2 separate regions of the Homo sapiens genome follow, and region 1 is linked to region 2. The links come from fine-mapping of genetic effects on gene expression. Tissue or cell type: monocytes. Region 2 holds a variant in brackets; the other region holds the start of a gene. All regions are shown on one strand. Distances are from middle to middle.

Region 1 (2,681 bases), 650 kb before region 2:
AGAAAGTAGAAGGATGGTTACTTCTAGTGTAACCAAGGCTGGGAAGGGTAGTGGAGGGTGGGGATGCTTAATGGATACAAAAAAAACAGAATGAATAAGATCTAGTATTTGATCAAGCCACTGCACTCCAGCCTGGGCGACAAAGCGAGACTCCGTCTCAAAAAAAAAAAAAAAAAAAAAAAGATCTAGTATTTGACCGCACAACAGGGTGACTATAGTCAATATAATCTAATTGCACATTTTATTTATTTATTATTATTTTTTTTGAGACATAATCTCACTCTGTTACCCAGGCTAGAGTGCAGCGGCGTGATCTCGGCTCAATGCAACCTCCGCCTCCTGGGTTCAAGCGATTCTCCTGCCTCAGCTTCCCGAGTAGCTGAGATTACAGGTATGAGCCACCATGCCAGCCTAGTTTTCGTATGTTTAGTAGAGACGAAGTGTCCCCATGTTGGCCAGGCTGGTCTCAAATCCTTGACTTCAGGTGATCCGCCCGCCTTTGCCTCCCAAAGTGCTAGGATTACAGGCGTGAGTGAGCCACCGCGCCCGGCTGCACATTTAAAAATAATTCAAAGAGTATAATCATATTGTTTGTAACACAAAGGATAAATGCTTGAAGGGATGGAGACCCCCATTTTACATGTGATTATTACGAACTGCATGCCTGTATCAAAATCTCTCATATACGCCATAAATATATACACCTACTACGTACCCACAAAAATTAAAAAATTTTTAAAAATCTTAACAAATGTGATGCTGGTGGTAACTGTCACGCCCACAGAGGAGGTCTGTGAAAGCACCCAGGCACCCCCTCTCGCCCCGTGGAACCGCATCGCAAAGGTAGCTCACTGGCCCCGGGGCGGGTCCCTGGCCGACAAACCCGTAACTCACAGCAGTGACGCTTCCCGACGCCCCCCGGCCACATCCCCACAGGAACGCTACGGCGCACAGGGCATTACTGTGCCCCCACCACAACCACATAAAGAAAATGTGGGGGCTCGGTCCTCCAGTCACGCGGCGAGCAAGTGCAGCGCGGGACGCCCGAGCGCCGGGTCTAGGCGGGCTGCAGGTGCCGGCAAGTGCTGGGGCCGGGCCGCCGCGGAACCCACCTGTGCTGGGCCTCAGGCCTTGCGCCGCCCTCGGGCTGCCGTCGCCAACCCCCCCCAAACAGCTCGCCGCCACGCTCCCTCGCCGGGGCACCGCCCCCGGCACCCGCCCCGGAAGTAGTTGCGGGAGGGCGCGGAGCACGCCGGGAAGCTCGCGGGTCGGCACCGGGACAGCTCCCGGGCGCCGTGGAATGCACACGTCCCGCACCCGGACCTTCCGGTCAGCTTCCCGGCTCGCTGTCTGATGCCCGCGGTAGCCAATGAGCTAGTGGTGTTTGTCCTGCTCCGTCCCCGCCCTCCAGGGGAACCAATCCCATTGCAGGAGAGGCAGGACGCGCAAAGGCCCGAAAGAGGAGCTGGGCGGGGTGGGGGGAAGGCGGAGGCAGTCTAGTAATGTAAAGCTCCGCTGAGAGGGAGAGTGCTGAAGAAGGGGACAGCCTCTGTACCTGCGGCGCGGCCCGAGGGGCGGACGCGAGCGGAGTGACGCGCTGGAGGCTGTTTATAGCGCTGTCAGGACAGCGCGGGGAGTGGAGGCAGAGGCCTGAGGTGAGGGGCCTCGGGCCTGCTGCGCCTGCAGGGAGTTGAACAAAACGCGGGGAAATACGGGCTGGGGGTGGGTGAGAGGAGGAGCGATGGGCTTTCCACTTCCACAGCTTTAAAATTTAAAAGCTCGACCCGGGAGGCTGTTGGCGTCTGGTTGCCATAACAACCGGCAGCCTCGTGGCAGGCCGGCTGGGGGCGGGGCTCTGAGAACCGGGGCGGGGCTGTGGCGGGGCTAACAGGCTGCAGCTGAGAAACCCACCCCGAGACGGAGCCGGAAGGCCGTTATTCAGAGGCGGCTCCGAGCCTCCCCTTCGCCTTCTGGATGCTCTGAGCTCCTCAACTTGGCGTTCAGGGCCCTGCATTGTCTGGTCCGTTTTCACCGGAGAGTCCAGCAACTGACACTTTCTTCCCTTAAACCTGTTGGGCGGTTCATTCCTTTGAGCTACTGTACATGCTCTTCCTTCTGCCGGTAATGCCGTTCCCTCCCCTATTGTCTTGTCCGCCTGAAGGGTTTATCAGAGTCTCTGGAGGCCCTCTTCATCCCGACGATTCTGTTGCCCTAAGAAATACTGTGCCCTGAATTGCGGAACAGAGCTCTAGTTACAAAAAACACCCGCTGGCTGTGTGCACCAGATGCGTCCCCAACCCGCTGCTCCCAGTTCAGAGTGCACCAAGCACCTGCCCTATTCCCAGAAGTACAGAGGAAGCAAGCAGCCCCCAATTCACATCTCCTGCCGCTGCCCTGATTGGGGATGAACGGGCACTGACTGCAGGGCCAAAGCCACAGCGGCCTCTCGAGCTGCAGAGTTCTCCTGACACTGGCTCTAGAGGACCCTCACCCCCCAGCTCTCAAGCTCAAGCTCCCCAGCCCCCTGAATAACAGGACCATCTCCTTTAAGACTCTAAGATATAAATGCAGGGGCTGGTCAGAGTAGTGACTCCAAAAAAAAAAAAAAATCACTTAGTGACTCCAAACTGTCAGCCAGGCGCGATGGCACATGCCTGTAATCCCAGCACTTTGGGAGGCTG
Region 2 (2,681 bases):
GGCTCTGCTACTTAATCTCTGTGTGGTCTTTGGTGAGTAACTTCCTCTCCATGAGCTCCAGCCACCAAATCTGAGAAACCAACTGGACCAGATAGATCAGTGGTTTATCAACTGTATTCTGGAGGACCCTGGGGGTCTCAGGGGAAAAGATGAGGCTCTTTATCTCCCCCTCTGAACAACCAGCTTGGTTCCACCAGGGCTCTCCCTTTGATCTGCTTTATAGATTAGTGGTCTGGGTAACATTTCAGGGTTTTGATAGTACCCAAGTCATTAAACATCTCTTCTGGGTCATTTTTTAGGTCCTTTTTGGCCAGGGTAACTCCTTGCACTTGGCCCCCTTGCTGGAGAGAAGCGCTTGGGGCGTTGGAGGAATCATCCCGGGCAGGTGCCCTTGTTGGCTGTGAACCTGGGAGCCTGGGCACAGCCTTGCAGTGGGCGGTGTGAGGGCACAGCACCCAGCTGTGACAGGAAGCCGGTGACTAAGGATGTGCTTCCCAATTTTGAGAGGGTTAAGGACAATTATTTATTTTGAGTGTGCCCCAGATTGTCGTCATCCTTCCCGTCCTTGGCAGAGGCTCTGATGACAGCATCCTCCGCCTGGCTCCACTTCCTGGCTGCTCAGCTTCCTCCATCTGACATGCTGGAGTTTGGCTGCCTTTGCATGTACGGTCGACTTTCAGTAGGTAGATGGTGGAAACTTAAATGTCCACAATAGGGGAATTATTCAATCTATCATTGTGCCTCTGTCCCAAGGATAGACGTACAGAGCGGTTAGAACAAGAGATACATCTGTGTGATGGGCATTAAAATATCCCCACAACTCAGCTGAACTCTAAAGCAAGCAAGTTGGAAAACTAAGGTCTGCTGTGATCGTCTTTATACTAAATGTGCACTTGTACTTGTTGGGTACCTGTATAAGTAAATGCATAGCAGAGGGTCTCCAAGTCTTCATGCCAAGCTGCGAATAGGACTTACCTTTGGGGACAAGACTAGGGTGTGAAAGCATTGCTAATTCCCACTGTGTGCAGGCTCAGAGCTAAGCATTTTTTAGGCATTATTACATTTCATCCTTAAACAGATATTTGAGGTACAGATGAGGAAACTGAGTCACAGAGAGGGCAAGTAAGTTGTCCAAAGACACACGTCTAGTAAGGGATGGAGGTGAGATCCAAACTCAGGAGTCTCTGCTTTGAAACCTTCAGCGCCTCTGTGATGAAAGGGACTTTTGCTTTGTGCCCTATGCACTTATATATAACTTGAATATTTTATCCTGAGGATGTACTCATGCATGACTTGTATAATAAGGTAGGAAATTTTAAAGAGATAAAGAATGCTTTGTGATGTCACCTTTTTATGCACTAAAATGGCACTGCCCATCACTTGAGGTTTGGCAATAAAGATCTGGATTTTTTTTATCAATCAGTGGCGGAAAGCATGGCTTGAGCTTTGGAACTCCCTTGGAGAGGCCTCGTAGACCATGAGTCATTTACACCATAGTGTGAAATAGATACGCCACTGGAGAGGACAGGATGCTGAAGGAGGAAGAGGGACTGAGGAATCAGAAGAGCTAGTATGGGGTCCTGGCTCTTTGTATTTGACAGCCTGGTCTTTATCTGTATAGAGAGAGACTCAGTAAAAG[G/A]CAGGGCAGACCCTATGCCCTTGGGTGAGTCATCATCACATCCATGCATATTATGCCGAGTCTGAATTTTATCCTAGCAAATCTCTCCGTAAGCTACAGTGACGACAATACAAATAATTAATATTTATTTAGTATTTACTTAGGGCCAGCTGCTGTCCTTAGCAAATTGTGTCTAAAACCCTAACAGGCACATAAATCACTTGGAGATCTGGCTCACGTGCAGATTTGCACTCAGTAGGTCTGGGGCAGGGCTCAAGATTCTGCATTTCTAGCAAGCTCCCTGGTGAAGCTGAGGCTGCAGGCCCATAGACCACACTGGGTAGTGAGGATGAAGAGGTCAAGGCATAGGCTGCTGGGGCTCGAGCCTGCATCCCTTCCATGTGGGACCTTAGCTGTGCTAACTCCCCCATAGGGTTGTTACAAACATTAAATCAAATAATGCACAGGCAGACTCTTGGCATGGTGCCCAAGGCATAGCAAGAGCCTGTTGAATGGAAGTGATGATGGTGATTAATGTCGCTTCATAATCTCTCAACAACTCTGGAAGTTAGGTCCTGGGATGCCCCCTTATTTGACAGATGGTAGAACCAAGGCTCAGAGAGGCTAAAAGCTCCCTCAAGGTCTTGCAACCAAAAAACAGGCTGGCTAACTCCAGCGTGGGATTCTCAGTCTTGGCGCTATTGACATTTGGGGCTGATCATTCTTTGCTGTGGTGTCTGTCATGTGCTTGTGGGAGCTTTTGTGGCATTCCTGTCCTCTACTCAGTGGACGTCAGTAGCATCTTCATCTCCCCAAACTGGGACAACCGAAAATGTCTCCAGACATTGCCAGATGCCCCTGGGAGAACAAAATCACCCCCCTGGTTGGGAAGCCCTGCAGAACTTTATAAGGTGGTGTCCCTCCAATGGGGCAGTCTGTTTTTCCAGGCTTCACAGAAACTTAATATGTCATTCAGGCCATCTAAGAGTTAACTGAGGCTTCATCAGTAATTGACAACATTGTCTCTAATGCTGTGATCAAGGGTACCACATCTTTTATGTTT

What was found. PIP is the estimated chance that this variant, and not a neighbour inherited with it, causes the effect.
Region 1: it holds the start of ANKS3, and the variant in region 2 is fine-mapped to the expression of ANKS3 in monocytes (TOPMed, PIP 0.97).

The regions. Positions count from the first base shown.
Region 1 is chr16:4,733,044-4,735,724 of GRCh38, forward strand. ANKS3 (ankyrin repeat and sterile alpha motif domain containing 3) reads right to left here and starts at 1,228. Exons shown (of 18, transcript NM_133450.4): 1 at 895-1,228. It overlaps DNAAF8 (dynein axonemal assembly factor 8), which reads left to right and starts at 1,494. Exons shown (of 10, transcript NM_139170.3): 1 at 1,494-1,655. RefSeq lists silencers at 1,014-1,073, 1,124-1,353.
Region 2 is chr16:5,379,580-5,382,260 of GRCh38, forward strand. It overlaps a transcript of RBFOX1 not described here. Among named protein-coding and RNA genes, the nearest start is that of LINC02164, 160 kb to the left of the region's middle. The variant G/A (reference allele first, on the strand shown) is at 1,640.